Linked DNA regions of Homo sapiens. The protein of the gene in region 1 interacts with the protein of each later gene in a biochemical or structural test. Each region holds a gene or a part of one and is shown in the gene's direction. Other genes may lie near its edges. The genes, in order: CUL5, UBE2F, CKB and CBFB.

Evidence for each region.
Region 2: of the proteins of CUL5 (region 1) and UBE2F, one has a biochemical effect on the other in vitro, tested with the Homo sapiens proteins (2 studies listed by BioGRID).
Region 3: of the proteins of CUL5 (region 1) and CKB, one has a biochemical effect on the other in vitro, tested with the Homo sapiens proteins (one study listed by BioGRID).
Region 4: the proteins of CUL5 (region 1) and CBFB form a complex in vitro, tested with the Homo sapiens proteins (4 studies listed by BioGRID).

Annotation. Positions count from the first base shown.
Region 1 is NC_000011.10:108,067,883-108,074,905, forward strand, and holds part of CUL5 (cullin-5), read left to right. Parts: intron 1-2,213; coding exon 2,214-2,307; intron 2,308-4,449; coding exon 4,450-4,580; intron 4,581-5,507; coding exon 5,508-5,615; intron 5,616-5,917; coding exon of another isoform or gene 5,918-5,995; exon of another isoform or gene 5,996-6,184; intron 6,185-7,023. UniProt on the Homo sapiens protein: Core component of multiple cullin-5-RING E3 ubiquitin-protein ligase complexes (ECS complexes, also named CRL5 complexes), which mediate the ubiquitination and subsequent proteasomal degradation of target proteins.
Region 2 is NC_000002.12:238,018,993-238,026,015, forward strand, and holds part of UBE2F (NEDD8-conjugating enzyme UBE2F), read left to right. Parts: intron 1-6,349; coding exon 6,350-6,420; intron 6,421-7,023. UniProt on the Homo sapiens protein: Accepts the ubiquitin-like protein NEDD8 from the UBA3-NAE1 E1 complex and catalyzes its covalent attachment to other proteins. Together with the E3 ubiquitin ligase RNF7/RBX2, specifically neddylates cullin-5 (CUL5).
Region 3 is NC_000014.9:103,519,831-103,527,281, reverse strand, and holds the start of CKB (creatine kinase B-type), read left to right. Parts: upstream 1-4,451; 5' UTR 4,452-4,516; intron 4,517-4,776; 5' UTR 4,777-4,788; coding exon 4,789-4,981; intron 4,982-5,104; coding exon 5,105-5,259; coding exon of another isoform or gene 5,260-5,331; coding exon 5,332-5,464; intron 5,465-5,847; coding exon 5,848-6,019; intron 6,020-6,689; coding exon 6,690-6,813; intron 6,814-6,970; coding exon 6,971-7,160; intron 7,161-7,239; coding exon 7,240-7,418; 3' UTR 7,419-7,451. UniProt on the Homo sapiens protein: Reversibly catalyzes the transfer of phosphate between ATP and various phosphogens (e.g. creatine phosphate).
Region 4 is NC_000016.10:67,025,110-67,032,148, forward strand, and holds the start of CBFB (core-binding factor subunit beta), read left to right. Parts: upstream 1-4,039; 5' UTR 4,040-4,298; coding exon 4,299-4,376; intron 4,377-4,617; coding exon 4,618-4,704; intron 4,705-7,039. UniProt on the Homo sapiens protein: Forms the heterodimeric complex core-binding factor (CBF) with RUNX family proteins (RUNX1, RUNX2, and RUNX3).

The DNA of each region.
Region 1 (7,023 bases):
GAGTTTCTTAACCATTTTATATGTGTAGTCTTTTCTTTATTTTTCTTTTTTTTTTCCTTTTTTGAGACGGAGTTTTGCTCTTGTTGCCCAGGCTGGAGTGCAATGGCACGATCTCGGCTCACTGCAATCTCTGCCTCCCAGGTTTAAGCAATTCTCCTGCCTCAGCCTCCCGAGTAGCTGGGATTACAGGCACCCACCATGCCCGGCTAATTTTTAGTAGAGATGGGGTTTCTCTGTGTTGGTCAGGCTGGTCTTGAACTCCTGACCTCAGGTGATCCGCCCGCCTTAGCCTCCCAAAGTGCTGGGATTATAGGCTATGAGCCACCACGCCCAGCCATGTGTATTATTTTCTTAGGACAGAAATATACATGGATATATGCATTTAAAAGTCATCAGCATCATTCTTGTAGAGGAGCCTGAAAAAACCTTTTTTTTTGTTTTGTTTTGTTTTGTTTTGTGACAGTCTTGCTCTGTCGCCCAGACTACACTGCAGTGACATGATCAAGGCTTACTGCAGCCTTGACCTCCTGAGCTTAACTGACCCTCCCACCTCAGCCCCCCAACTCGCAGGGACCACAGAAAATTCTTTATTCGGAAAATTTTAAGCATTTTTACAATGTAGGAAGAACAGTATAATGAATCCCCATTACCTAAATTCAGCTTTAGTAGTTACCAACATTATGTCAATTCCAAAGGAATTTTTAATAAAAAATTTTTAAGGGACACATAATTGCCTCCCTTAATTTACAGATAGATGATTTGTTTTTCAGAAGAAATATATCAGCCTTATTGTACTTAACTTTAGTCCTCACAACCTATTAATTTCATCTGATCCCCAAAAGAGAAGTAAATAATTACATGACACGAGGGAGCAGAGATGACATGATATCTTCTGCCTCATTTAGATTTTCCTGATGGCCTCCTAGAGCACTAGACCCTTGCTATCTTACCTGAAATAGTTCAACAGCCTCGTTACCATATCCCAACCACCCACTCCTTACCACCTGCCTTACTACCATTATACTGATCTTTAATAATGACTTGAGGAGAGGAGAATCTCATTACATTTATCCTCTGTTTAAAACTTCCTTGGGGCCAGGCCTGATGGTTCACACCTGTAATCCCACACTTTGGGAGACTGACAGGGGGATCATGTGAGACCAGGAGTTTGTGACCAGCCTGGGGAACATAGCAAGACATCATCTCTACAGAAAAGTTTAAAAAATTAACCAGACTTGATAGTACATCCCTGTAGTCCTAGCTACTCAAGAGGCTGAGGCAGGAGGATCACTTGAGCCTAGGAGTTCAAGGCTGTAGTGAGGTATGATAGTAGCTATGTAGTAATGCCACTGTACTCCAGCTTGGGCAGCAGAGCAAGACTCTGTCTCTTAAACAAACAAAAAAACCTTCCTTTGTTCTTCCTTCCCTACCTATGAAATAAAACCCCAAATCATAGATTTTCATTCATAATCTGGTTGCAGCCTATCTTTCTAGCCTTCTCTTCCACTGTCTGTTTCTTCTCTACCATTTTAAGCTTCCTGGTATTCCTAGAATACGTAACCTATTTTAGGGCTTGTACTTACTTTACAGGATCCCATTTAGATACCAACTTGTGGATGAGGCCATTTTAACTACCCTAGAAAAAAGTAGTTTCTAAGTTTTTTTTTATTTTGTGTGTGTTTGTGTATGTGTGTGATGCCACTTAACTGAGTTATATTTAGTTAGCAGTGTAGGTTTACTGCCCTCCTCACTCTCAATTAGACAGTGATCTCTTCGAGAGCAGGAATTATATCTTATTCTTGTCTCTTAAATACTTCCTTAGTGCCTGCACGTAGTAGGCATCCAATAATGGTTTGTTGAATGAATGTATTCACACTTCTAGAATTTTATAACCTAATTTTAAAACAGGTTCTCTCCAGACAGGAAGAGTTAATCAAAGTTTGGTTTTGTATATTTTTCTCTCCCCTCCTTGAGGACTTTTGTTAAAATTTCTAAAGAGAGTCTAGTTCTATAGTTTTTTTCCTTAGGGGAAAATACACTTTGGTAAACTAGTATAGCATATCCATCTTCAATAATCCTATAGTTAAGGTAAGTGAAATCTACTTTCAGTATAATTTTTTTTTTGTTGAACAATATTGTTTTATTTTGTGAGTTAGAATAGATTTGTGCTATACAGCTTATAGTAGCCTTGACTAATTTTTGATATATTTCAGCTCATGGAATGCTGTGTAAATGCCCTGGTGACATCATTTAAAGAGACTATCTTAGCTGAGTGCCAAGGCATGATCAAGAGAAATGAAACTGAAAGTAGGTAAAACATCACATAAAGTTATCATAATCTTCTAAGAGGGTATCTTTGAAACAAATCACTTACTAAGTTGCTCTTAGTTAATTCTTTTCCACATAGGTATATGTGGAACTGTTAGAGTGAACTATACTTAAGGAAATAGATAAAATATTTAACACAGAGGCACTGCTAAGAGTATATAAACTTAAATTTTAAGCATTTTCCCTCTTAGCTATCAACATCTGTGTATGTGTATGGTGAATTTCTACTTTTTTCTCAAAAGCAAGACACTGCTTTTAAAGGCCAGTTTAAACTGGAAACATATGTTATAGATTAGAACCAGGTATTTGACTTTTGTGTGGAACCTTGTGATGAATCTTTTTAGAATGTAATAAAACACTCCCTGTTAATAGTCATCTCTGTCCCCCAAAATACTTTATAAGATTTCTAAAGGATTTTTTTATTACTTCAATGTTTTCTTAAAAAGATGTGTTTTGAGAGGTAGCAAGTATATAACAAACTAAAAAAAAAAATTGTACATATACCTACTACCCCAGTAAAACTGCTTTTAACATTTTTTTGCTTTTGTTTTTTAAATAACGTACTTCTACTGAGTTTCCAGGTTTTATTATATCTAACTGCAAGGTCCTGTTTAATCTCTAGTTGCATTTAAAGTGCATATTTCAATTCACTTAAGTTCATACACTTTTTAGGAGTAATTCAGTAGTAAAAAGCAAGCTGCTTTATTGGCGTAAACAAAATACTTGTATTCTGTGTGCCAGTCTAATTAGAGTTATGTCTGATCTATGTTGCACTCTTTTCAAAAGGATTTATTTAGTGGTAATCAGTACCGTGAGGTAGGGTTTTTGTGAAGGTCAATAAAATGGCATAACATGAAAAAGTGCTTTGTAAATTGAAAAATTATTTATGAATACAGTTTTATATTCTAATCTCTAATATAGTTGCTTTCGTAATTATTACTCATGTTTTTTACCTTTTGATGATATGGCTGTATATGTAGTATTACAACTACCTTATGAAATAAACTAATCTTGTGTGTAAATAAATATTCCTTTGCACTGAAAACCAAATGACTCACCTTTTCTTTTGAGACTGGGTCTCGCTGTGTTGCCCAACCTGGAATTCGATGGCACGATCACAATTCACTGTAGCCTTGACCTCCTGGGCTCAAGCGATCCTCCCACCTCCCAGCCCACTGAGTAGCTGGGACTACAGCCGTGTACCACCATGCCTGGCTAATTTTTGTATTTTTTGTAGAGGCAGAGCCCCACCTTGTTGCCCAGGCTGATCTCCACTGCTTCTGGCCAAATGACTGACCTTTTAAAGAAAGGAGTTGGGTTTTGCAGTATTTGATCACTTTTTTTATTTTTATTTTTTGAGACCGTCTTGCCCTGTCACCCAGGCTGAGTGCAATGGTGCAATCACGGCTCACTGCAGCCTCAGCCTCCTGGGCTTAGGCATTCCTCACACTTCAGCCTCCCAAGTATCTGGGACCAAAGACATGCACCACCACACCCAGCTAATTTTGTTTGTTTGTTTTTGTGTAACGATGGGTTTTGCCATGTTGCCCTGACTGGTCTTTTTAACTCCTGGGCTCAAATGATCCTCCCACCTTGGCCTCCCAAAGTGCTGGAGTTACAAGCGTGAACCACCACACCCAGCCTGATCACTTTTAATTCGATTTTTTTTTAAACATAATTTTTAGACTAAGTACAGTGGCTCATACCTATGATCCCAGCACTTTGAGAGACCAAGGCGAGAGGATTGTGTGAGCCCCGAAGTTTGAGACCAGCTTGGGCAACATTGGGAGACCCTGTCTCTACAAAATTACAAAAAACATTAGCCAGGCATGGTGACATGTGCCTGTGGTCCCAGCTACTCAGGAGGCTGAGATGGGAGGATTGCTTGCGCCCAAGAGGTCAAGGCTGCAGTGAGCCGTGATCGAGCCACTGTACTCCAGCTTGGGTGACAGACTGGGACCCTGTCTCAAAAACAAAAAAACAACAACAAAAAAACGAACAACTACTCCTAATGGCATTGTATCCACAGAATACTATTAACATTACAAACTTAACTAATGTTTCTCTAAACTCTTACTCTAGTAAATGAAATGATTACATGAATGTGTTCTCTCCTTCCAGAATTACATTTAATGTTTTCATTGATGGACAAAGTTCCTAATGGTATAGAGCCAATGTTGAAAGACTTGGAGGAACATATCATTAGTGCTGGCCTGGCAGATATGGTAGCAGCTGCTGAAACTATTACTACTGTAAGTTTTTTTTCAATGGCAATGATAGATATATATCAAGGCTATTTTTTAAATGTAGGATTATTGAAAATAGTGAGCGGTTACCAGAGGCTGGGGGTTGGGGGAGCAGAAGAGGTTGGTTAGTGGGGTATAAAGTTATAGTTCAATAGGAAGAATAAGTTTTGGTGTTCTATTACCCATTAGGGCGGATATAGCAAGTAACAATGTAGTGTATATTTCAAGATAGAAGAGATTTTTTATGTTGTTACCACAAAGAAATTATAAATGTTTGAAGTGATGGATATAGTAGTTACCCCAATTTGATCATTATAGTATATACATGCATTGAAATATAACATTGTACCCCATAATATGTACCATTATGTGTTGATTACAAATAAAAACATTAAATTTTTAAAAATACAGAATTGAAAATTGAAAATAGTAATTGAAATTACTATTTTCTCTGTAAAACAGGGAGCTGGGCAAGGTGGCTCACGCCTGTAATCCCAGCACTTTGGGAGGCCGAGGTGGGCAGATCACAAGGTCAGGAGATCGAGACTATCCTGGCTAACATGGTGAAACCCCTCTCTACTAAAAATACAAAAAAAATAGCCAGGCGGGGTGGCGGGCGCCTATAGTCCCAGCTACTTGGGAGGGTGAGGCAGGAGAATGGCGTGAACCCAGGAAGTGGAGCTTGCAGTGAGCCGAGAAGGTGCCACTGCACTCCAGCCTGGGCGACAGATCGAGACTCCGTCTCAAAAAAAAAAAAAGGAAGAAAGAAAAAAGAAGTGGCAAAACAGTAATATTGGAACACCTTTTAGTTTTATTTTTAAGAAAAAATATCCCCAGTTTTAAATGAGTTTTATTAAAATTATGTTTATTTTCTCATTTTTTTGTGTTATTCTTTTTCTTTTAAAAACTTAATGTAAAACCTTTTGTTTCTAGGACTCTGAGAAATACGTTGAGCAGTTACTTACACTATTTAATAGATTTAGTAAACTCGTCAAAGAAGCTTTTCAAGATGATCCACGATTTCTTACTGCAAGAGATAAGGTATATATTCCTATATATATAAAAAACACTTTTAAAAGTTTTATTCTCATAATTTACTTCTAATAATCAATTTGCATTATTTTTCTATTAATTATAAACTTAAAAACCTAGCAACTGTTATTTTTCATCAGTGGAGAACAACTATATTCGTTTTGTCTTGGCTGTAAGCATTTGTTAAACATTAGATAGCCTTGTGAATTAGAATTTAGTTAGAAAGTTGCTTTTTTCTCATTTTTCCAAGAATGTTTTTCTGTTTTTGAATATTACTGATCTATTGAATTCCTATTCATCCTTCCATTAAGACCCAGCTCAAAGAATACTTCCCCTGGAGCTTCCTTGATGTCCTGCCTCCCTCCACAGCTCATCACCAGCAGAGTTGATTCCTCCATCCTCCGTCCTTTCATGGGACTCCTTCGGGAGTTATGTTATACTTATCCTTGTTTCCCAGGGAAGCATTTGTATTGCATACCATCTTTTTCCATCCTCACTAGTATAGGATAATGATAATAAAACACCATACTGTCCTTAGCATTGTATCTTTTTTAGTGTAATAAACCTATAACAAGAAATTGCTGTTAGTTTTTTCTCTTCTTTGACTACCTTTCGTTACTTCCCAAGTTTGAATGATTCTAAAAAGACAACTTTCTCCATTCTCCAGTAGGATTTTTTTCTCACTCTTTTTGTCTATTTTAATTTTTTTTTTTTTTTTTTTTTGAGACTGAGTTTCGCTCTTGTTGCCCAGGCTTGAGTGCAATGGCATGATCTTGGCTCACTGCAACTTCTGCCTCCCAGGTTCAAGCGATTCTCCTGCCTCAGCCTCTCGAGTAGCTGGGATTACAGGGACCAACCACCATGCCCGGCTAATTTTTGTATTTTTACTACAGACGGGGTTTCACTGTGTTGGCCAGGCTGGTCTCGAACTCCTGACCTCAGGTGATGGGCCCGCCTCGGCCTCCCAAAGTGCTGGGATTACAGGCCTGAGCTACTGTGCCCAGACTCTTTTTGTCTATTTTAAAACAAGTAAATAGGCCAGGTGCAGTGGCTCACGCCTGTAACCAGCACTTTGGGAGGCCAGGGCGGGTGGATCACCTGAGGTCGGGAGTTCGAGATCAGCCTGATCAACATGGAGAAACCCCATCTCTACTAAAAATACGAAAAATTAGCTGGACGTGGTGGTACATGCGTGTAATTCCAGCTACTTAGGAGACTGAGGCAGGAGAATTGCTTGAACCCAGGAGGTGGAGGTTGTGGTGAGCTGAGATCGTGCCATTGCACTCCAGCCTGGGCAACAAGAGCGAAACTCTGTCTCAAAAAATAAATAAATAAAAATAAAACAAATAAGTAGGTAAAGTAGGAAAGGAGTTAAGGGAGTATAGACATGGTGGGCGTGGTGTGAAGTCTTAAATTG
Region 2 (7,023 bases), on another chromosome or scaffold:
TTTGAGACTGGCACAGAGGTTGAGGTGGAGGGGTAAGGCTTAAATTTTCCTGTCCTTGTCTCAGACCTGCTATTCCCCAGCCCCCCTCTCCCCTCCCCACTACTAGTCCCTGTGGGGAAACATCATTCCCATGCAGCCTTTCTGAAGTTCTGTGTGCTGTGTTTGACCTTTAGCTCTGTAACGATGATCTTACATTTTTCTATTTCCACTGCTGTCTCTTTTGGAAGTTTCATAAATGATGGGCTGGTCAGATTTCATCAGGAATAAAACCCCATGTTCTCAAACCCAGAAGTACTGAGAGCAGCTGGTGGCTCTGCATGAACCATGTTCCTACCCTGCTTCTGTAGGGTCCTTTCCTCTCCTTTCCCCAGCGTTTCCTTCCTGTCCCCCCTGCCTTTTTTTTGATACAGAGTCTCACTCTGTTGCCCAGGCTAGCACGATTTCAGCTCACCACAACCTCTGCCTGCGGGTTCAAGTGATTGTCCTGCCTCAACCTCCTGAGGAGCTGGGATTACACGCATGTACCACCACGCCCAGCTAATTTTGTATTTTTAGTAGAGACGGAGTTTCTCCATGTTGGTCAGGCTGGTCTCAAACTCTCGACCTCAGGTGATCTGCCCGCCACGGCCTCCCAAAGTGCTGGGGAGCCACTGTGCTCAGCCTTTTTTTTTTTTTTTTTTTAATGAGATGGAGTTTCACTCTTGTCACCCAGGCTGGAGTGCAATGGCATGATCTCAGCTCACCGCAACCTCTGCCACCTGGATTCAAGTAATTCTCCTGCCTCAGCCTCCGGAGTAGCTGGGATTACAGGTGCCTGCCACCACACCCGGCTAATTTTTGTAGTTTTAGTAGAGACGGGGTTTCACCATGTTGGCCGGGTTGGTCTCGAACTCCTGACCTCAGGTGATCCGCTGCCTTGGCCTCCCATAGTACTGGGATTCCAGCCATGAGCCACTGAACCCAGCCTCCTGTTCCCTTCTCTTGTTTTCTTCCTGTCTGCCTCTCATTCAGGCAAGTGTGGGGCAACTTCTAGGGGCCAGCATATGTCACTGGTGTCCCCAGCAGGGCGTCTCCAGGGGATCATTAGGGTGTAGTACTTGGCTGAACACAAAAGTAGTTGCATTTGCCATATTTATAATGAATCATTGCTTACAGACTCTCCTGAGCATCTCTTTCCCACTGGGCTGTGAGCCCTGAGGGAGTGCCAGCTGTCTTGCCCACACTATTTCCGGTGTGTAGCTTGTGCCTGCCATGCTAGGCAAAAACACAAATTGTTCAGTGGTTGCCCCTCTCTCTGCCCCCTACAAACTTAGTGTAGAAAAGAGATGAAATAATTCAGTCAGCATAGGAAAATCACATAGGCACAGGCATTCAGGATAGAGTGTGAGGGCACACTCTGAGGGCACCAGGTGGGTCAGTGAGAACGGATACAGCAGCCAGTGCGGAGCCTAGGGATGGGCTGGGGCTTCTCAGGGTGCATCTGCTTCACTGCCATGACTGACTTGACACAATTTCTGTACTTCATAAGGACTTGTCTCCTAAGAGTTACAGTTCCTGCAGTGAAGGTCTGTTATTAAGACTGTGAATGTGGAAAACCTTTAATAAAGTCGATCGTTATTTTAGAATAAACTTTTAAAAGAAAAATGTCCATTTGGAATCCCCCACCCCACCCAATATCCCAGCAGCCAAAATTCAAATTTTCTTTGTGTTTTTGTTCCTTTGCCTCTGCAGTTTAACTCCCAGCCTAAAGCCTGCCTTGTAATTTGTCAGTTTAGAAACTGTCCAAACGGATGTAGTGACATTTAGTGGGCTCCTACATTGTGCCAGGCTCCGTGTCAGACACTGGAGGGCCAAGGATGGGAACTTGGTGGCCTTTTAAGAATTTCAGTCTCTGGGGAGACAGACGCTGACATGACAATGAGGAGCCCGGGTGGTGATGTGGGTGACGGCTATTCCTCAGGCTGGTGGGGACGCCCAGAGGAGGAGCACGTGACATGGCCTGGGGATGCCTTGGAGGAGGAGAGAGCCTTAGCCCAGACCCTAGCTGGCCTGTGGTGTCACACAGCCCTCAGGTGCGTCGGTCAGGACTGGTTGGAGGAAGCTGTGTGCTGTAGCAGGAGAAAGGATTACAGCTCTTTGTTCTTGGCTCTGGTTTCCTCCTGGAAGTGAAGACACCACGTCTCCTCACATGTTGTTGGCCAAATCAGATAACATGACCATGGCCAGCCCGGAGGGACTAAGGAAGGCCAGTCCTGCCATGGGCCCTGGAGGAGGAGAGCCAGAGACACTTGTTGAACAGCAGTGATGACGACCACAAGTGACACCTGAACTCCCACTCTCCCTTCTTCTTCATATGAAATTATCAGACTTTGTAGGGAATTGAGACAACACGGCCATGCAAAAATAGAATAATAATAACCTGTAATCTCTCCATCCAGAGATGATCACCCTGACTCTCTAATGTCTGTTGCAGACAGTATAAATTCCACATACCAATGGGGCGATGCTACACATAGTCTGGTAACTTGGGGCTTTCCCGTCATAATATGATGGACGTACACATTCATGTCAGTCAATGCACAATTGCATCATTATTAATAAGAGCACTTCCTTGTATGATGTATCATTTAAACCAGTCCTTTATCATTGGTCACTGGTTGACCAACCTTTTGCAGTATAAAGCAGACTTTCTGTAAAGGGCTAAGCAATAAATATTTTAGGCTCTGTGGACCACATAGTCTCTGTCCCATATTCTTTTTTGTTTTTTCAATAACCTTTTAGAAATGTAAAAACCAGTCTTTGACCATGTGAAAACAGTCCCAGCCTCGATTTGGTCTGTAGGCTGTGGTCTGCTGCCCCAGAATAAATAGGGCTGTGAGGTAAGTCTGGGGCATGCATCTTATGTCTGTCTGCCTCTTTCCTCTGGATCAGTTCCTAGACATGGCATTATGGGTATTGAGTAATTGATGCTCCATTTTAAGGTTCTGGATAAATCCTATTAAATTACCTTGCAGAGAGGAATGCCAGTTGGCATCCTCACCATCCATGTTTGAAAATTCCGTTTCCCTAAGCAATTACCAAGGTAGAATATTTGCCTTTTTGTTGTTGTTGTTGCCATTTTGGGAGGAAATGGTATCTCGTTTAATATCCGATTGTCATTTCTTTTTCTTTTCTTTTCTTTTCTTTTTTTTTTTGGAGACAGAGTCTTGCTCTGTCCCCCAGGCTGGAGTCCGGTGGCACAGTCTCAGCTCACTGTAACCTCCACCTCCTGGATTCAAGCATTATATTTTCATTTCTTAAGTCGGATGCTGAATAGTATTTCCCACTAATAAGCTGTTTATATTTTTTATGAGCTGCTATTATGTCCTTTGCCCATGTTTCCATTGGGGATATTTGTTTTTCTTCTAGATTTACTAGAGTCCTTACAAGCAAAGTATGTGAAACTTTTTTCTTCAGTTTTTTAGCTATGCTGTAAATACTTTCTTTGTTTTGCATTTGCCGTCTTTAGTCGTTGTTCTATACAAGTTTGGTTTTTTTGTTTCACTGCTTGAGTTTTGTATGTTATGATATGCTTAAAGCAGCCTTCAGACCCCAAGATGGTCATCTACATTTTCTTCTAGTCCTATAATTCTCTTTTATGTTTAATTTTAATGCATTTGGAACACTGTGTTTTTCCAAATGGGTAGCCAGTGACCCACCAAATAACCCAGTTCTCTGTTGGTTTGAGAGGCCAGATTTGTCATACATTAGGCTTCTGGCAGGGTGAGTGATGGTGGCCGTGCCAAGCACTGAGGGGGAATGTGGGAGGGCTGGGCATTGCTTGTTGGTCTAGCTGTGGGCCACTGGGGTTGGGGGGAAGGGGCTACAGGCCTAATTCAGTTTGGAAAGTATGTATGTCAGAAGCCAGGTGCAGAGTTTTGCCCTCTGTTCTGGAACCACAGTTAAGAGGACCGTTGACAAAAGGAGGTATCTGTGTTAACATCAAATTATGGAAGGTGTGAAGGGGACAGGAGGAAGGGCGAATACCCGCAAGCCTTTGGGAGATGTGGTAGCACCAGGCTGCATGGTCATGTGTGAGGGCCTCCGCAGAAGGGGTACCTGCTTGGGAGGGAGAGTGAGTTTGCCAATTTTCTAGGTTCCTACAAAAACTGAGAGTTGGTGACTTGGCCTAGCACTAGCCTGCCACCATCCAGTGACCCAGAAGGGGGCACAGAGCCCTGCCCCTCATGGCAGTCTGACCTTCCCTCTGCAGCCCAAATGCCTCAGTAGAAGGGAAAGATGCAGTTCCTCCTTTCTATTAAATACATTCCCATTTATTTGTAGAAAAGCACAATGTGAAATTTATTTAAACTCATTCTGAACCTAAATTCTTTGTCCTCAGACACATGGATTTGCACAGTCAGTTTAATCAGTTTTTTGGAATCTACTGATTTTGTGGTATTTTGAAATTAGGAAGAATGCTCATTATAGTGTCGAAAAAGTATTTTTGCTTTATACAAATAAATAAAAAGATGAAACTATAAAAGTTTACTAGAAAGTTAAAGAGGATATTTGGATGGTGAAGTATTTTCTAAGTATGGCATCAAAGATAAAAATTTGATTACAAAAATAAACTCCTCAGAAAGCATCATAAATAAAAGTTAATAGCAGATGATACACAGGGAAAATGTTACCCATTTCACAAAGGTTTGATTCCTTTTTGAGATGACCTTTCTGATGAGATCCTGTGATTTGACACTTCTGCATATTAACCAAGGGGACCTTTCTGTGGGAGGTCCTGGAGAAGAGGCCCTCTCCCTTACTGCAGGTTGTGGTGGGGTTGGCGGGCGGGGTGTCACATCTTCTGAAGGACATGAGCAGTGTATCAGAAGCTAGGGTTTATGACCAGCAGATCCTCTTCCTGGGCTTCATCCTGAGGAAACATTTCACCCAGGATGAACCCTGCATTGATAGAGCAGGGTTGGGAGAAGAGGAAGCAACCTGAGGGCCCAGAGGTAGGGAAGTGCCTATTAAACTCGGGCAGGTGTACCATGGAATGCAGGATGCCATCTGAAACGATGGCAGAAATAACTAAAACATATGTAGCACAGCTTTCTTCTATAAAGAAAAATGAGTATGCTGCATGCACACTATGTGTGTGGCCTAGAAAAGAGGCATAAACACATGTACATCAGGTGTCACATAATTTCTGGGTAGCATTTTGATGGAGTGTATATATTCTTACATAAAAAACAAAAGTGAAAGACAGCAGAATTTATTAGATATTTACGTATGTTTCTTTTCATTTGTGTTGTCCTTTTCTCTCTGAGTATGGATTGCCTTTGTAACAGAGAAATCTGTTTGGTTTGGTTTGGTTTGGTTTTCTGGTTTGGAGGCAGGGACTCGCTCTGTCACCCAGGCTGGAGTACAATGGTGCGATCATAGCTCACTGCAGCCTACAACTTCTGAGCTCAAGTGATTTTCCCACCTCAGCCTCCTGAGTAGCTGGGACTACAAGCAGGAGCTACCATGCCCAGCTCTTTTTTTTTCCCTGGAGAGACAGGGTCTTACTATATTGCCCTGGCTAATCTTAAACCCTTGGCCTCAAGCAATCCTCCCACCTCGACCTCCCAAAGTGCTGAGATTTTTTTCTCCTGGGTATCTATCATTAATTATATTTTCTTCTTTTAGGTGGCCTCCCAAAGTGAGCCACCATGCCCAAACTAGAAAAATCTTAAAAGAACTTTATCCAAACATGCCAAGTCATAAATGATGTTGATATACTTTATCCCCACAAATTCATTTTCATTCTCTTTCTCTCCTTTAAATGTAAAGTGGACTAGGGCTTTCATCTAGGAAAACGTATGTGACAATAGCATCTTCAGAAAAATCCAGCAAATGGAACAGGCTGTTCTTGCAAGGAGCAGTAACTTTCAGCCATAGTAACTTGTATTGCAAAGGAATCTGGGGCTTCTGATTGGATTTGGACCCAGAGGATGTAGAACTATTCCTTAGAGTGCACTGTGGATACCTTCTGCAGTCCCAAACCCAGGGGGTGTGGGAGGTGACAGAGGTCCAGTCACCAGCACTGTCAGCCGGCAGGACACATGGGGCTTGTAGAGAGGTGCTCAGAAGCCCACGGGTAGACTTTGCTGCTGAGACTAGCCCTTGTGGATGCAGCGCATCAACACATGCCTCATGGGTGAGGTGAGCCAGTATTCAGGGTTGAACACGTGTTCAGCGAGTCAAACTGCACACTGAGTCAGCCATGAAACAAGCGTCTAGATAGGGGATGTGGTAAGGCTCTGGCCTGGAGATGTGATTTGCAGAGACTGTCGGCGTGATCTCTCTCATTGTCTCTGTGTTGCAGCCTCCCAAAGTGAAATGCCTGACCAAGATCTGGCACCCCAACATCACAGAGACAGGGGAAATATGTCTGAGGTGAGTTTATTGTCTTTTCTTTCTTCTACATTCGTGAGTGTCATGTGCAAGCGTTGGGCTTTTAAACATGTTGTCTCCTCTGAAAAGATTTTGAGGCATGGCCAAGATTAGGAAGGGCTTGAACTCAGCTGAAGTAGCTGCGGTTGCCTGCCTGCTCCCAAACCCTACCCTACCTTCTGCCTCCAGACGAGTGTCTTCTCTTGGCCCTCTGGGGGCCACAGCCCTACTAAGTTCTTAGTGCAGCCTCCTTGCCTGCCCAGGATGGACCCTTGGAGTCCCTTGCCTTGTTCCCCTCCTATTTACATGAGAGACCACATTCCCTCCATGTGGCTGATTTTAGCTAAGATGAGAAAATATGATTAATGATAGATACCCAGGAGAAAAAATGTAGATGGCAGGCTTGAGACGACCTTGGGCACTTGTATTTAAGCTGCCCTCTCTCTACCAAAATGGTCCTGATAGATGTCAGGGCACTTAGGGCAGGCAGCCTCTCGGAGCTTCATGCCTGCTGTGACTTGTGTCCCTGATCCCTGGCATGGGCAGAACGTCAGGCATCAGTGATTTCTCCTCCTAAGGCTGCTGGAAAAGTTGTGTAGGTGGATT
Region 3 (7,451 bases), on another chromosome or scaffold:
CTAACAAGAGCTGATGCTGTATATGCCCAGCTGTGCCATCTCATTGACTTCTCCCCAGGATCCTAGGAGGGAGGGAACACTTTACAGATGGGGAAACTGAAACTCAGAGATGTTAAATAACTTGCCTGAAGTCACAGCCAGTGAGGTCAAAGTGGGATTAGGATTTAAAGCCAATAAACCCCCAAAGCTCAGCACTGAGGAGGCTGAAGAGGGAGGACTGCTTGAGGCCAGGAGTTGGAGTTCTGCCTGGACAACATAGCAAGACCCTATCTCTTAATTAAGAATTAAAGCCAGTAAACCGGCTTCAGAGAACCAATGGCTGATTTGAAGAAAGGTGGGAACAGGCAGGAAGGATGCCCACTGGGGAGGCTGCTGTGCCCAAATCCCTGGCAGGGACCACGTGACTGCAGTCCCTCCCCTCTAAGCAGCACAGCCTCCTACCCCACTGTGCTCTGTGATCCCCAGTCAGCCCCTGTCCCTCTCCTGACCTCAGCCCGCTTCCTCTTCGGGCTCTGCAGAACTCAGGGGCAGGGCACTGGGAGGAAGCAATGCTGCCTCTGGCTGCACTCTGCAGAGGAGCAGACTACAAGGATAGAGTCCAGTGCCCTGCCTGGAGTCTGCCCTGTGCCTGACCTGCTGAGCCGGGTCATGTTCTGTGGATAAAAGACCTGGGCCTCCTTTGAAGCCCCCTCCAGGCCCAGTGGTTCACGTGTAACCAGGTGTGATTTCTGAGGAACCTGGACCAAACACTGGCCTGGTAACGTCATGCAGCCTCCTGCCTGGATGCTGCCAAAGCAGCCCCTGTGGGCCCCAGGGAGAGCAGGGGCTGTGGACAGGGGAGGTCAGCTGGAGGGGAGGCTGGCACCTTCCAAGCCCCTCTCCTTGTGCACCTGCTCTGGGGGACACTAAGGCTCCCAATCAGCCCCTGCCTGGGGGGTCTCACCCTGACATTTAGGTCTGAAGGCCTTGAGGGCCACCTCCCCACTGTTATCTGCTGCTGCTGTCCCCGTCACAGCTGCCTGGCCCCCGTACACTGTCATTTTGCCCCAGGCAGGCTCGCACAGGGCCGGCGCTCTGGGAGGGTGGAAGGATTGCTGGGCCCATGACTGGACACCTCTGTCACCCAACTTCTGATCTATCTGCACGTTGAGACCAGCCTGGCCAACACAGCAAGATCCCTGTCTCAACAGAATAAAAACAAAAATAAAATGATCTTCTGTCTGCACACTGGGGACAAAAACACCCACCTCAGAAAGCTGAGGGTTACCAGCGGCGCCAGGCCGGAGCCGCCCCAGTGCCAGGCTCACTGCTTGCCATAGGCAGCCCTGCCCTCTGGATCTCATATCTGCAGTTCTGACCTTGCCTGTGGAGGGAAAGTGTAGGGGAAAGAAAGAGATCAGACTGCTACTGTGTCTATGTAGAAAGAAGTGGACATAAGAAACTCCATTTTGTTCTGTACTAAGAAAAATTCTTCTGCCTTGAGATGCTGTTAATCTGTAACCCTAGCCCCAACCCTGTGCTCGCAGAAACATGTGCTGTGTTGACTCAAGGTTTAATGGGTTTAGGGCTGTGCAGGACGTGCTGTGTTAAAATGTGTTTGCAGGCAGTGTGCTTGGTGAAAGCCATCGCCATTCTCCAGTCTTGAGTACCCAGGGACACGATGCACTGCGGAAGGCCGCAGGGACCTCTGCCCAAGAAAGCCTGGGTGTTGTCCAAGGTTTCCCCCGACTGAGACAGCCTGAGATATGGCCTCGTGACAAGGGAAAAACCTGACCATCCCCCAGCCCAACACCCGTAAAGGGTCTGTGCTGAGGAGGATTAGTGAAAGAGGAAGGCCTCTTTGCAGTTGAGATAGGAGGAAAGCATCTATCTCCTGCTCCTCCCTGGGAATGGAATGTCTCGGTGTAAAACCCGATTGTACATTCTATTTACTGAGATACGAGAAAACTGCCTTATGGCTGGAGGTGAGACATGCTGGCGGCAATACCGCTCTTTACTGCACTGAGATGTTTGTGTAAAGTCAGACATAAATCTGGCCTACGTGCACATCCAGGCACAGCACCTTTCCTTAAACTTATTTATGACACAGAGACCTTTGCTCACATGTTTTCCTGCTGACCCTCTCCCCACCATTACCCTAAAGTCCTGCCACATCCCCCTCACTGAAATAGTAGAAATAGTGATCAATAAATACTGAAGGAACTCAGAGACCAGTGCCGGCGCGGGTCCTCCATATGCTGGCACCAGTTCCCTGGGCCCACTGTTCTTTCGCTATACTTTGTCTCTGTGTCTTATTTCTTTTCTCAGTCTCATCCCACCTGACGAGAAATAACCACAGGTGTTGGGGGGAGGGGCTGCCCCCTTCAGGAAAGGGGAAAGGGGGTCCTTTCCCATGGGGGACCTGGGAAGCAGGTTAGGCTCTCAGCCAGGAGGGTGAGAGAGGGGAGGGTTGGCCTTCTGAGAAGCTGCAGTTGCTGAAGACAGAGGAAGTCCTGAGTGTGGCCCCCAAGTCTCTCCCTCCCCCCAAGTCTGCCTCCAGGGGCTGCAGCTATCCCTTCCAGAAACAGAAACTTAAGCCCTTCAGGTTTTGTGGGGTAGCAGGTGGGCAGCTGCAGAAATTTCTAAAACTGGGCGAAGAGGCTGCACGGGGCACAGAGTGCAGGAATTCCAGGCTTAAGGGACACCTGCTGTCTGGCCAGCCCAGAGGGGCCGTTTGCCTTTTTACATGGGTTGGTTTTATTAAGTCTAAAAAATGCTGGCTTGGAACAGGACGAAGCATGCCAAGGAGCAAAGAGGCATGTGTCTCCTCTGCAGTGACCATGGGGATGAGACAGGAGAAAAGGCCCCCACACCGATGCTCACATAGGCAGAGGCGAACAGGCTTCCCCTGCCTTTGGGCCTTGGCTCTGGTGCCTTCTGCTCTGAGGCACCTATTCGGGGTCCCTTATACCTGGAACGCCACTGCTCTGTGTCCCCCTGGCCCCAGCAGCACCGATCTGATGTCATCTGGTTTGTTGGGCTGCTGGCTCATGGCCAGTCTTCTTCCAGCAGCAGGCGCTGTGTACCTCGCTGCCTGCTGTATCCCCAGCGGCTGGCACCTGTTAGGTGCTCATTGTGCCACTGCTGGAGGGATTTGTATCAAATATACCCACAGATAAGAGTTCCCCCCTTCTTTGCTTTATTCACAGAGCAACAGATGAGGGTCCCTGATGGATATTAACCCCACATCCTCCACTTCCCCCTCTTAACAGCTGCATAATATTCCACAGCAAGCAGATGCCTCCCTACCCTTGGCCACTCCCGCCTGATGGGGCATCGGGTTGTATCCAGTTATGTTTGTTTTTCCCTCCACAGATCTCTTGGTCCATTAGTGGAGAGAACTGAGACATCCTTTCTAAGGGCTGCATTCCTAGAAGGGGAGATTGCTGGGTCACGGAGTTCGAACATTGTTAACGTTAATAGATTCTGCCAAATTATCTTGCAAAAAGCATGCAGCAATTTAAGTTGCAGGCAGCGTGTGGACGCCTGTCTTCCCGCATTCCAGCTCAAAGCCAGCAATGGCTGGGGTCGATCTGGGAGTGTTGGGGGTAGGGGCAGGTGGAGTCACTGCTTAATTTGCATGATTCTGGTTATTCGTGAGATCAGTTTTTTTTTTTAATCGCACTTATGCTTATTGTTTATTAGCGTTTCCTCCCATCTTTGCCTGAAGTCTCCGGGGACTGCCTTTGGGGGTCGGGTAAACTTGTCCCCTGCGAAGAGGGCCCAGGGTTGGGGTCTGGAAACTCCGAGGCTGCACTTGCCAGCGGCCTCTTAAGGCCACAGCGTCCCCGTGGTTTCTGGCTCGCAGCCCCCCGAGACCCAGGACTTGTCCAAGGTCAGGGCACCGCGGGTGCCCCCGGGCTGGGCCGCAGCCAGACTGCGCTTCCCGCGCGCCTTCGCTTTGCACCAGGATCGCCCAGGAAACGCCTGCGGGCACCTTGAGGAAGGTCGGCGGCTCCGGGCCAGCTCGCACTGGCCGGGGGTGGGGCGGGGGCCGTACCTGCTGCGGAAGCCCCGAAAGCTTTCGCCCGGCCCCTCGCCGCCGCCGCGGGGGCTGGCTGGACTAGGCGGGCAGGCTCGAGGATGCGGATGAACCCAAGCGTCCTCGAGTGCCCGGAGGCTCTCCGCCTCAGTTTCCCGCCCAGAGGCAAGGGCGTGCGAGGGGATCCAGATATCCAAGGACCTGAGGTTTCGGCCTCGAGGTCTTGGGCGGGGGACTGGGCAGGCTGCGCGGGGTCCCAGCGAGGGGACAGCTCGGGTGGGCGGCCAGGGTGTTGGGGGCTGCGGGCGGCGGACAAAGCGGCGGCACCACCCCGCGGCGCGGGCCAATGGAATGAATGGGCTATAAATAGCCGCCAATGGGCGGCCCGCGTTGTGCCCCTTAAGAGCCGCGGGAGCGCGGAGCGGCCGCTGTTCGCCTGCGTCGCTCCGGGAGCTGCCGACGGACGGAGCGCCCCCGCCCCCGCCCGGCCGCCCGGTGAGTGGGCCCGGGGGCCGGGGGCGTCCGCGCCCGGGCTAGGGGCGCTGCGTGCAAAGGGGGCGCGTCGCCTGGAGCGCGCGCCGGACCGGCCGGGGGTCCCCGGCGATGATGGCGCTCCCCGCGCGCGCTGCGGACCCCGCTGACCTTGGCCGCGTCCCGGGGGGCGCCGGGGGGCCCGGCGGCGGGGGCCTGAGTGGTACGCGGGAGCCCGGGAACCCCGGCGTGCCGGTCCCCTCTGACCCCGCGTCTCCCCGCAGCCCGCCGCCGCCATGCCCTTCTCCAACAGCCACAACGCACTGAAGCTGCGCTTCCCGGCCGAGGACGAGTTCCCCGACCTGAGCGCCCACAACAACCACATGGCCAAGGTGCTGACCCCCGAGCTGTACGCGGAGCTGCGCGCCAAGAGCACGCCGAGCGGCTTCACGCTGGACGACGTCATCCAGACAGGCGTGGACAACCCGGGTACGCGACCCCTCGGGGCCGGGGTCCCGGCCCCCCCTCCCCCCGCGCAGCCGCAGGGTCCTCAGCAGCGCGCTCGGGCCCGGCAGTGACGTCACTGTCCCCGTCCCGCGCCCCCTCCCCCAGGCCACCCGTACATCATGACCGTGGGCTGCGTGGCGGGCGACGAGGAGTCCTACGAAGTGTTCAAGGATCTCTTCGACCCCATCATCGAGGACCGGCACGGCGGCTACAAGCCCAGCGATGAGCACAAGACCGACCTCAACCCCGACAACCTGCAGGTGCGGGGCTGCGGGCGGGCCGGGCGGGCGGGGCCGGGGTCTTCGGGCGCTCACTCCCGTCTCGCCTCCCAGGGCGGCGACGACCTGGACCCCAACTACGTGCTGAGCTCGCGGGTGCGCACGGGCCGCAGCATCCGTGGCTTCTGCCTCCCCCCGCACTGCAGCCGCGGGGAGCGCCGCGCCATCGAGAAGCTCGCGGTGGAAGGTAGGGGCCGGGCGGGCCGAGGGGCGGCGGCGGCCGCGTCCCCCTCCCGGCGCGGTCCCCGCCCGCTTTTGTTTACGTCGCCCGGGAGCGGCAGCCGCCGTCGCGCTCTTATCTGCGCGCGCCCGGGTTCAGTTTCCCGGAGGGACCGAGGGACGGAGGCCCAGCCCCGCGCCCACAGCGGCCTGGGGCCCAGGGAGGGCGGGTCCTGGCGCGGGGTCACCGCCTGGGACCGTCGCCCGGGCCGTGAGGACTGGACGCCCGCAGATCCGGGCGGGTGGGGCCCTCTGACGTCCCCCGAGGTGGGGCACGGGGGCGGGCGGGTCCGCGCTGCGGGCTGGAGGGGCGGGCGCGGGAGCCGAGCGTCCTGAGCGCACCCCTCGCAGCCCTGTCCAGCCTGGACGGCGACCTGGCGGGCCGATACTACGCGCTCAAGAGCATGACGGAGGCGGAGCAGCAGCAGCTCATCGACGACCACTTCCTCTTCGACAAGCCCGTGTCGCCCCTGCTGCTGGCCTCGGGCATGGCCCGCGACTGGCCCGACGCCCGCGGTATCTGGTGCGTGTCCCTCTGCGCCCTCTCGCGGCGTCCTCCCTCCCCGCTACCTCCGCTTTCCCTCTCGCCCCCCTCGCGGGGGTGGGGCCCCTCGCGGCGAGGAGGAGGAGGAGGAGGAGGGAGGGGCCGGCCGCGCTCCGGGTCTGGGTTCCGTGCCGCGCCTCCTCCTGCGCCGGTGACCTTGGCCGAGCAGGTGCGTTAAGGGACTGGGCCCCGGCCCGTGGGGGCTCAGGACTCAGCAACACCTCCCCACCCCGAGACGTGAGGTGGGGGCGGGGCTCTCTGGCGCCTCTCCCCGACGGCCCTGGGAGCTGGAGCTCTTTGTTTTCTTTTCTCACTCCTCCGCCGCTGGGATTCTACCAGGGGCTGGTGACGCCAAAGCTTCTCCAGGGGCAGGGCTCCTACCCCCACTGTGGGGGGCGGGTCGGGCTGTCCTGGCGGTCCCTGGCCCCGCCCCACCTCAGGCCACAGCGCATGATGGCAGCTGGGGTTCTCCTGCTGTGAGGCGTCCCGGTTCCCCCGCCCGCCCCGTGTTGGCGGGTGGAGTCTTGGCAGCAGCCTCCACTCCTGGGCATGGCAGGGAGCAGCACCTCAGGGACTTGGGAAGTTCCTTTGGTCTGGGGGCGGCCTGGGGCTTTTTTCTGGGTATGCCCTGAGACCAGCCCTCCCGCAGGCACAATGACAATAAGACCTTCCTGGTGTGGGTCAACGAGGAGGACCACCTGCGGGTCATCTCCATGCAGAAGGGGGGCAACATGAAGGAGGTGTTCACCCGCTTCTGCACCGGCCTCACCCAGGTGCCAGGGACGGGGCAGGCCCAGACCCCAGGGCCCCAGCAGGGATGTGGGTGCCCCAGCATCAGTCCCCCCGGGGGATTTCCGGCACTGGGGAGTCTCAGGGCCTGTAGGGGTTTCAGGCAGGCCTTCTCCCTCATACCCTCTTCTCCGTCTGCAGATTGAAACTCTCTTCAAGTCTAAGGACTATGAGTTCATGTGGAACCCTCACCTGGGCTACATCCTCACCTGCCCATCCAACCTGGGCACCGGGCTGCGGGCAGGTGTGCATATCAAGCTGCCCAACCTGGGCAAGCATGAGAAGTTCTCGGAGGTGCTTAAGCGGCTGCGACTTCAGAAGCGAGGCACAGGTGAGCAGGGCAGGTGCTGCGGCTTCCCGTGGCCTTTGGGCAGCCCTGTTTCCTCCGCCCTGACTTGCTGTCTCCCCAGGCGGTGTGGACACGGCTGCGGTGGGCGGGGTCTTCGACGTCTCCAACGCTGACCGCCTGGGCTTCTCAGAGGTGGAGCTGGTGCAGATGGTGGTGGACGGAGTGAAGCTGCTCATCGAGATGGAGCAGCGGCTGGAGCAGGGCCAGGCCATCGACGACCTCATGCCTGCCCAGAAATGAAGCCCGGCCCACACCCGACACCAGCCCTGCTGC
Region 4 (7,039 bases), on another chromosome or scaffold:
TCCAGATCCTATTTCAGCTTCAAGATGGTACAATATTTTCTCAGTAACTGAAGGGAAACTATTTCCTTAGAAAAAATGCATCAGAGGCTCAGAGACTTCCTCTGTGAGGAGAGGCAAAGGTGGGTGGCTGCTGACACCAGACCTGGATAAAACCATCCTTTCTGCTGGGCCTGCAGAGGCAGGACATCTAGACTTTGACCTTCCAAGCCAAGAAGGGACAAACAGGCTCAGAGATAGGAATGCACAGTCCTCAAGGGCAGACCCACATCCTGCCACAAGGCCCAAAATAGAACCCCTTTCTTCAACCTGTGGGGACCCTTCTAGAACATGGTGGGGTGCTCCCAGAGGAATAACCCCAGACATAGCCTTCTATGAGTTTGCAGTTCAGTGAGGGCAGCAGGCAGGACTTTTGGTATCTCCACTAGGTCTCAGAGTAGAATGATTAAAATCACCACCCTGGGGTCACTTAACCCCTGTGAATCTCCGTTGGCCCATCTGTAGAATAGGATCAATAATACTAAACTTACAGGGTTGTGGTGAGGAAGGAATGAAGATGATGTATCCCAATGCTTAGCTAGTTTCTTTAGAGTCGGGGGAGGGTCTCACTCTGTTGCCTAGGATGGCCTCAAACTCCTGGCCTCAAGTGATCCTCCCACTTCCACTTCCCAAACTACTGAGATTACAGGTGTGCACCACCATGCCCAGCCCCCATTTTGTTATTTCAAATGGATCAGGGTCTCGTCACTGTCCTTTTTTACTTTTACTTTTTTTTTTTTTTTTTTGAGGCAGAGTCTTGCTCTGTCACCCAGGCTGGAGTGCAGTGGTGCAATCTCGGCTCACTGAAACCTCTGCCTCCCGGGTTCAAGTGATTCTCCTGTCTCAGCCTCCAGAGTGGCTGGGATTACAGGCACACGCTGCCACGCACAGCTAATTTTTTGTATTTCCGTGGAGACCGGGTTTCACTGTGTTGCCCAGGCTGGTCTCGAGCTCCTGAGCTCAGGCAATCCACCCGCCTCAGCCTCCCAAAGTGCTAGGATTACAGACGTGAACCATCGCTCCTGGCCTTATTTACTTTTTCAAAGTCTGTTTCCTCATCTCTCAGGAGACAGAAGACCTGACTTAGAAGATGGTTGTGTGGGCCGGGCGCGGTGGCTCACGCCTGTAATCCCAGCACTTTGGGAGGCCAAGGCGGGCAGATTGCCTGAGGTTGGGAGTTCGAGACTAGCCTGCCCTTCTCTACTAAAAATACAAAAATTAGCTGGGCGTGGTGGCAGGCGCCTGTAATCCCAGCTACTCAGGAAGCTGAGGCAGGAGAATCGGTTAAACCCGGGAGGCAGAGGTTGCAGTGAGCCGAGATTGCACCATTGCACTCCAGCCTGGGCAACAGAGTGAGACTCCGTCTCAAAAAAAAAAAAGAAAGTGGTTGTGTGAATTAACTGTGATAAGGTGCATGAAGGCACCCTGAACAGAGCTTCACAGTTGCACTAGGCAAGTGAGGGTTCCTGCGCTCTCCTCAGCTTCATTGTGTATTATCTACTTACCCACCCAAGATCAGCTTTAGGAGCCTGCAGGAGCAGCCACCCACCTAGGAAGTTAGGGAGATACTCAAGAGGAGGCCCTTGGTTGGCTTGAATCCTTACGAAAGGAAGATTCCAGATGACCGGACTTCAGATAATTCAGTCAGGTTTTGGGACGGTGGGGGCAGATGTTTCTTGGCACAGAAAAGACACCTCTAAGCCTCCATGAGTGGGCCTTAGTAGAGCTGGATCTTAGCAAACCCCCTTAGCAAACACCCATAGCATGGTGTCTGGGCCAACCCATACCCAACTCAACAGCTGCCAAAGCTGTTAGGAGCACAGACTTAAGTGTACCTTACATGGGTGAAAATTTCCTTTATAAATTTCCTTTAATTCTGTTTTTTTAAATAAGTGAAAAAAAATTAACAACCAAAAAGGCATATAGAGGTCAGCCGAGGAGATGGCCTCCTTCAGCCTGTGGCTTATTTCCCGGTCATCCTGGCTGTTGGATGCCAGACTACGACGAGTGTGGGTTACCCTGTGGCCTGGAGTTGCCCAAGGCTGTCTGTGGGGCTGCTGTTCTGGGTCTGCTTGGCAGGCTTTGCTGTCCCTTTCCCTTAGGACATCGTTCCTCCCCTCCTTGAGGCTGACAATGAGAGCGCCCTGCCCTGCTCTGCACTCCCACCCCTCCAGGTCTAGCTCCCTTGACCCTGACCTTTTCCTTGCCTAAGCTCATGGCCATCAAGGCCATTCTAGAGATCTTTCAATTTTTATTTATTCCACATTTCCCATGGCAGAAACAATTATTGCTAGAGTCTTTGGCCAAGATCAACTTGGAGGTCTGTGAGCCCTCCTTGGACCCATTGTGGAGCAAGAGTGCTTCCTCATGGATTTTTTTTCCCCCCGAGACGGAGTTATGCTCTTGTTCCCCAGGCTGGGGTGCAATGGCACGATCTTGGCTCACCGCAACCTCTGCCTCCCAGGTTCAACCAATTCTCCTGCCTCAGCTTCCGAGTAGCTGTTTGAGACGGAGTCTTGCTCTGTGGCCCAGGCTGCAGTGCAGTGGCACCGTCTTGGCTCACTACAACCTCCGCCTCCCAGGTTCAAGCGATTCTCCTGCCTCAGCCTCCCGAGTAGCTGAGACTACAGGCGTGTGCCACCACACCCCGCTAATTTTTGTACTTTAGTAGAGATGGGGTTTTGCCATGTTGACCAGACCGGCCTCGAGCTCCTGATCTCAGGTGATCAGCCTGCCTCGGCCTCCCAAAGTGCTGGGATTAGGCCAGGCGCAGTGGCTCATGCCTGTAATCCCAGTACTTTGGGAGGCCGAGGCGGGCAGATCACCTGAGGTCAGGAGTTCGAGACCAGCCTGACCAACATGGCGAAACCCCGTCTCTACTAAAAATACAAAAAAATTAGCTGGGCGTGGTGGTGGGTGCCTGTAATTCCAAATACTCGGGAGACAGAGGCAGAAGAATCACTTGAACCCAGGAGGCGGAGGTTGCAGTGAGCCGAGATCGCGCCATTGCACTCCAGCCTGGGCGACAGAGCGAGGCTCTGTTTAAAAAAAAAAAAAAAAAAAAAAAAAAAAGAGGGCTGGGATTACGGGTATGAGCTACAGTGCCCGGCCACAGGACTAACTTTGAATCAAACTCTGCCATAAATCCCATGTCAGACTTTCTCCAGTTTGGGCTAAACAACTTCCCTAGAATTTATGGATCTTATTTTTTGCAGCTGATTGCACATTGAGTAAGTATATGGACTGGCAATCGGTTACATTCTTAACTCAGCTTGTTCTTCTTTAGAAACTTAAATTTATTGGGCTCCCACTGTGTGCTAGACCCACATAAAGGTTCTCACGCTAACACTGCAAACCTAGGAGTGTCTGCATTTTGGAAATAAGGAAACTGAGGTTTAGTGGTCCAATTCTTATCTAAGGCCCCAGCCAGCAGGTAGTGTAGCTGAGTGGGATCCCATCTAAGACCCATCTGACTCCAAAAGCCACGACCTTTCCACCATGACTCGGTTGGATTCTTTGGTCCGTTTCCACCTCAGTCTTCAACGTGCAGAGCCTACACCCCTGCCGGTCGGTTTAGGGACGAAAAGTCCCCAAGGACTTAGGTTTCCTCGCGTTCAAGTGACAATCTGGGGTTACTCCGCGCACCTGGGGAACCCAGAAGTTCCAGATGACCGAGGAAGGGCGGTAGAAAAGGCCTGCGCTGGCTACTCCCGTCTGCTAAAGGCCAGGCGGATCCCCCAACGACAGCTCCACGCCGAGTGGCCGCGGGCGAGCAGGGGGAAAAGGGCCCTGATGCGGAAGGAGCCCCGGGGCGCCACAGCCAGGCCGCTCCGCCAGCGGGCGGGTGGCGCATGCGCGGCGTGGGCCGCGGAGTTGTGAATGGTGCGTCTTGTTTGCCGGAGTTGGAGGCGGGCGGGCGCGCGAGGAGGAGGGGTGGGGCCGGCGGGGGCGGGGTGGGCGGTGAGAGGAAGTGGCGGCGGCGGCGGCGGCGGCGGCCGGGGGCGGTGAGCGCTGGGGCTGCGCGGGCGGCAGGCAACGGCTGAGGCGGCGGCGGCGGCGGCGGCGGCGTGGGTTGGGCTCGAGCGGGCGGCGGCGCCTCAGACTCCCCGGAACGGGAGCCCACGCGGGCGGGCGCCTGAAACAAAGGGAAGCGGGCGTCCGGGCGCCGCGGGTGGGCGGTCAGTCGGTCAGCGCGGAGCCAGCCAGCGGGTGCCCGCGCAAGCCCCGAGCGCGGCCGGCCGGCGCGGCCTCAGGGCGGGAAGATGCCGCGCGTCGTGCCCGACCAGAGAAGCAAGTTCGAGAACGAGGAGTTTTTTAGGAAGCTGAGCCGCGAGTGTGAGGTGAGGCAGGCGGGCGGGCGGCTAGGAGGCCGCAGCGCGCCCCGAGTGGGCCCGGGCGGAGAAAAGTTTGGGCGGCACGGTCCCCGGGAGTCCCGGTCGGTGCGCCCGCGGAGGGGCAATCTCGCCGGGGCGGCCATCGCCCGCAGCCTCTGCTTGCCCTTATCGGCGCTGCGCTGGGAGGGCGGGCGCGCGGGCGGCGCCGCGGATTTGGCTCCTGATTTCGGGCCGTCTTGCCTTGCAGATTAAGTACACGGGCTTCAGGGACCGGCCCCACGAGGAACGCCAGGCACGCTTCCAGAACGCCTGCCGCGACGGCCGCTCGGAAATCGTAAGTCGGCTGGCCCGGGGCGCGCGCGGGTCACTTGTTGCGCGGGGCCGCGGCGGCCCAGGCCGGTTCCGGACGGCGGCGCGGCTGCTGCGGCTCCCGGAACTGAGTGGGCGCCGTCTCACTTCCTACTCGGGATTCAAAATGCGAAACCAGATGCCGCGGGCCGGTACTCGCGGGGAGACGCTTTTCCTGGGGCTCGCCGCGGTGGCGCGTGTCGGCCAACGGAGCACCGCGAGTGGAGCTCGAACCCGAGCCAGACTAAACAAGCGAAGGGCATTGTTTAGGCGGCGACACCGAAGAAGGGTTCAGGGTATTTGTAGCAAGCAAACCCCCATTCGGAAAAAGAAGTGGAGCTTCATTCAAGGTCGGCGATAGTTTGTTTCTTAGAAGGTAGATCTGTCGGTAATTCTCTGTGTCAAGCGGTCTCACTACCAGATCGCCGAGTAGAAATCTTTCCTCCAGTTATTTATTCTAATAGAGAGGGGAGGGGGGGGAAAAGGCCCTAAAAATGTCATTTTCTTAGAATGTTAAGCTTCAGGAGAATCAGAAAGAAACCATTATCCCCATGTCCTGAGTAGGGCTGCTGTTCCTAAAAACTGCACAGATGGGCAAAACCCACGGTTGATCTCGAGGTCCTTGTTTTAGGAGGCAGATTTAGTGCGTCTTCACCAGACCTTGGGTTGAAAAAAAAAATCCAAGGGTCCTAGTTCCTCTCATCTTTTTGGTTTGCCTTGTTGGAGGTGCTGATGAGGAGGGAGTGGTAGGAAGAAACCAAGAAAAGAGGTTGATTATTACTATTTTTTTGAGGTAGAGTCTTGCTCTGTTGCCCAGGCTGGAGTACAGTGGCTCGATCTCGGGTCACTGCAACCTTCGCCTCCTGGGTTCAAGCGATTTTCCTGCCTCAGCCTCCTGAGTAGCTAGGATTACAGGTGCCTGCCACCACGCCCGGCTAATTTTTGCATTTTTAGTAGAGACGGGGTTTCACCTTGTTGGCCAAGCTGGCCTCCTGACCTCAAGTGATCCGCCCTCCTCGACCTCCCAGAGTGCTGGGATTACAGGCGTGAGCCACTGCGTCTGGCCTGATTATTTTTTAAAAAGTTGAAGCACTGTCTAATGGAATGCTGTTACTCTCTGCTCGGTGACTTGGACTCACTGCATTGTTAGAGGCTTGAAGCTAGGTGCGATTTGAATTTGGGTTAACAGTAGGAAGACATTGGAAATTTACTTCTCCCACCCCCTTTATAAAACCAGTTTATTTTTATTCAGATATAATTCATATGTCATAAAATTCTCCCTTTACATCACTGAACTCAAATTTATTTTTAAAGAATATTTTGATATTTTAAGTGAAAGCTTTTTAGAGTTGTAATAGTGAGAAGATACTGGTTAAATTTATCAGGAGCTCCTGAATATTTGGTCATTAGTGCATGTTATGAAAGAGAGTCTCAAGCTTTTAGCCCACTTGCAAATTTCTTGAGTAATTGTAGTATTTATATGATTGAAGTGCATAAGACATACTTTTAGGTTTTGGCACTGAGTGGTATAATAAAAGAATTCATTAGCTGGTGCGATGATCGTGTCATCCTTTGCCTGGGTTACCTTTTGCAAAGGGAAGGTGGTATACCTGACGATAGAATTTCCTGGAGGTAAAGGATGCAAGTATAAAAGATAAGTTACAAAGTACTTGTACTCTCACTGTTTGCTTTTTTGTTTTGAGACGGAGTCTCGCTCTGTTACCCAGGCTGGAAGCACAGCAGCATGATCTTGGCTCGCTGCAACCTTCGCCTCCTGGGTTAAAGCGATTCTCCTGCCTCAGCCTCCTGAGTAGCTGGGATTACAGGCACACACCACCACGCCCGGCTAATTTTTTTGTATTTTTAGTAGAGACGGGGTTTCACCATCTTGGCCAGGCTTGTTTTGAACTCCTGACCTTAAGTAATCCTCCCACCTCGGCCTTCCAAAGTGCTGGGATTACAGGTGTGAGCCACCGCGTCTGGTCTTGTTTCGTTTTTTTTTTTTAAGAGAGAGGTCTTGCTGTGTGGCCTAGGCTGGGGTGCAGTGGCTGTTCACAGGCACAATCATGAGGCACTACAGCCTCAAACTTCTGGGCTCAAGCGATCCTCTTGCCTCAGCCTCCCAATAGCTGGGACTACAGGCTCGGCGTCACCATACGCAGCCCCATGTGTTGTATTATCATCACTATCTTTGAAAGCTGAATTTTTTTGGAAATTTGGTGAATCATAGCTAGTAGGGTGTTTTCTGTCATCTCAGACTTTGCTGAATGGAATTATGAATTCAACCCATAGGATATCTGAAATGCTGTAATATTATAGTA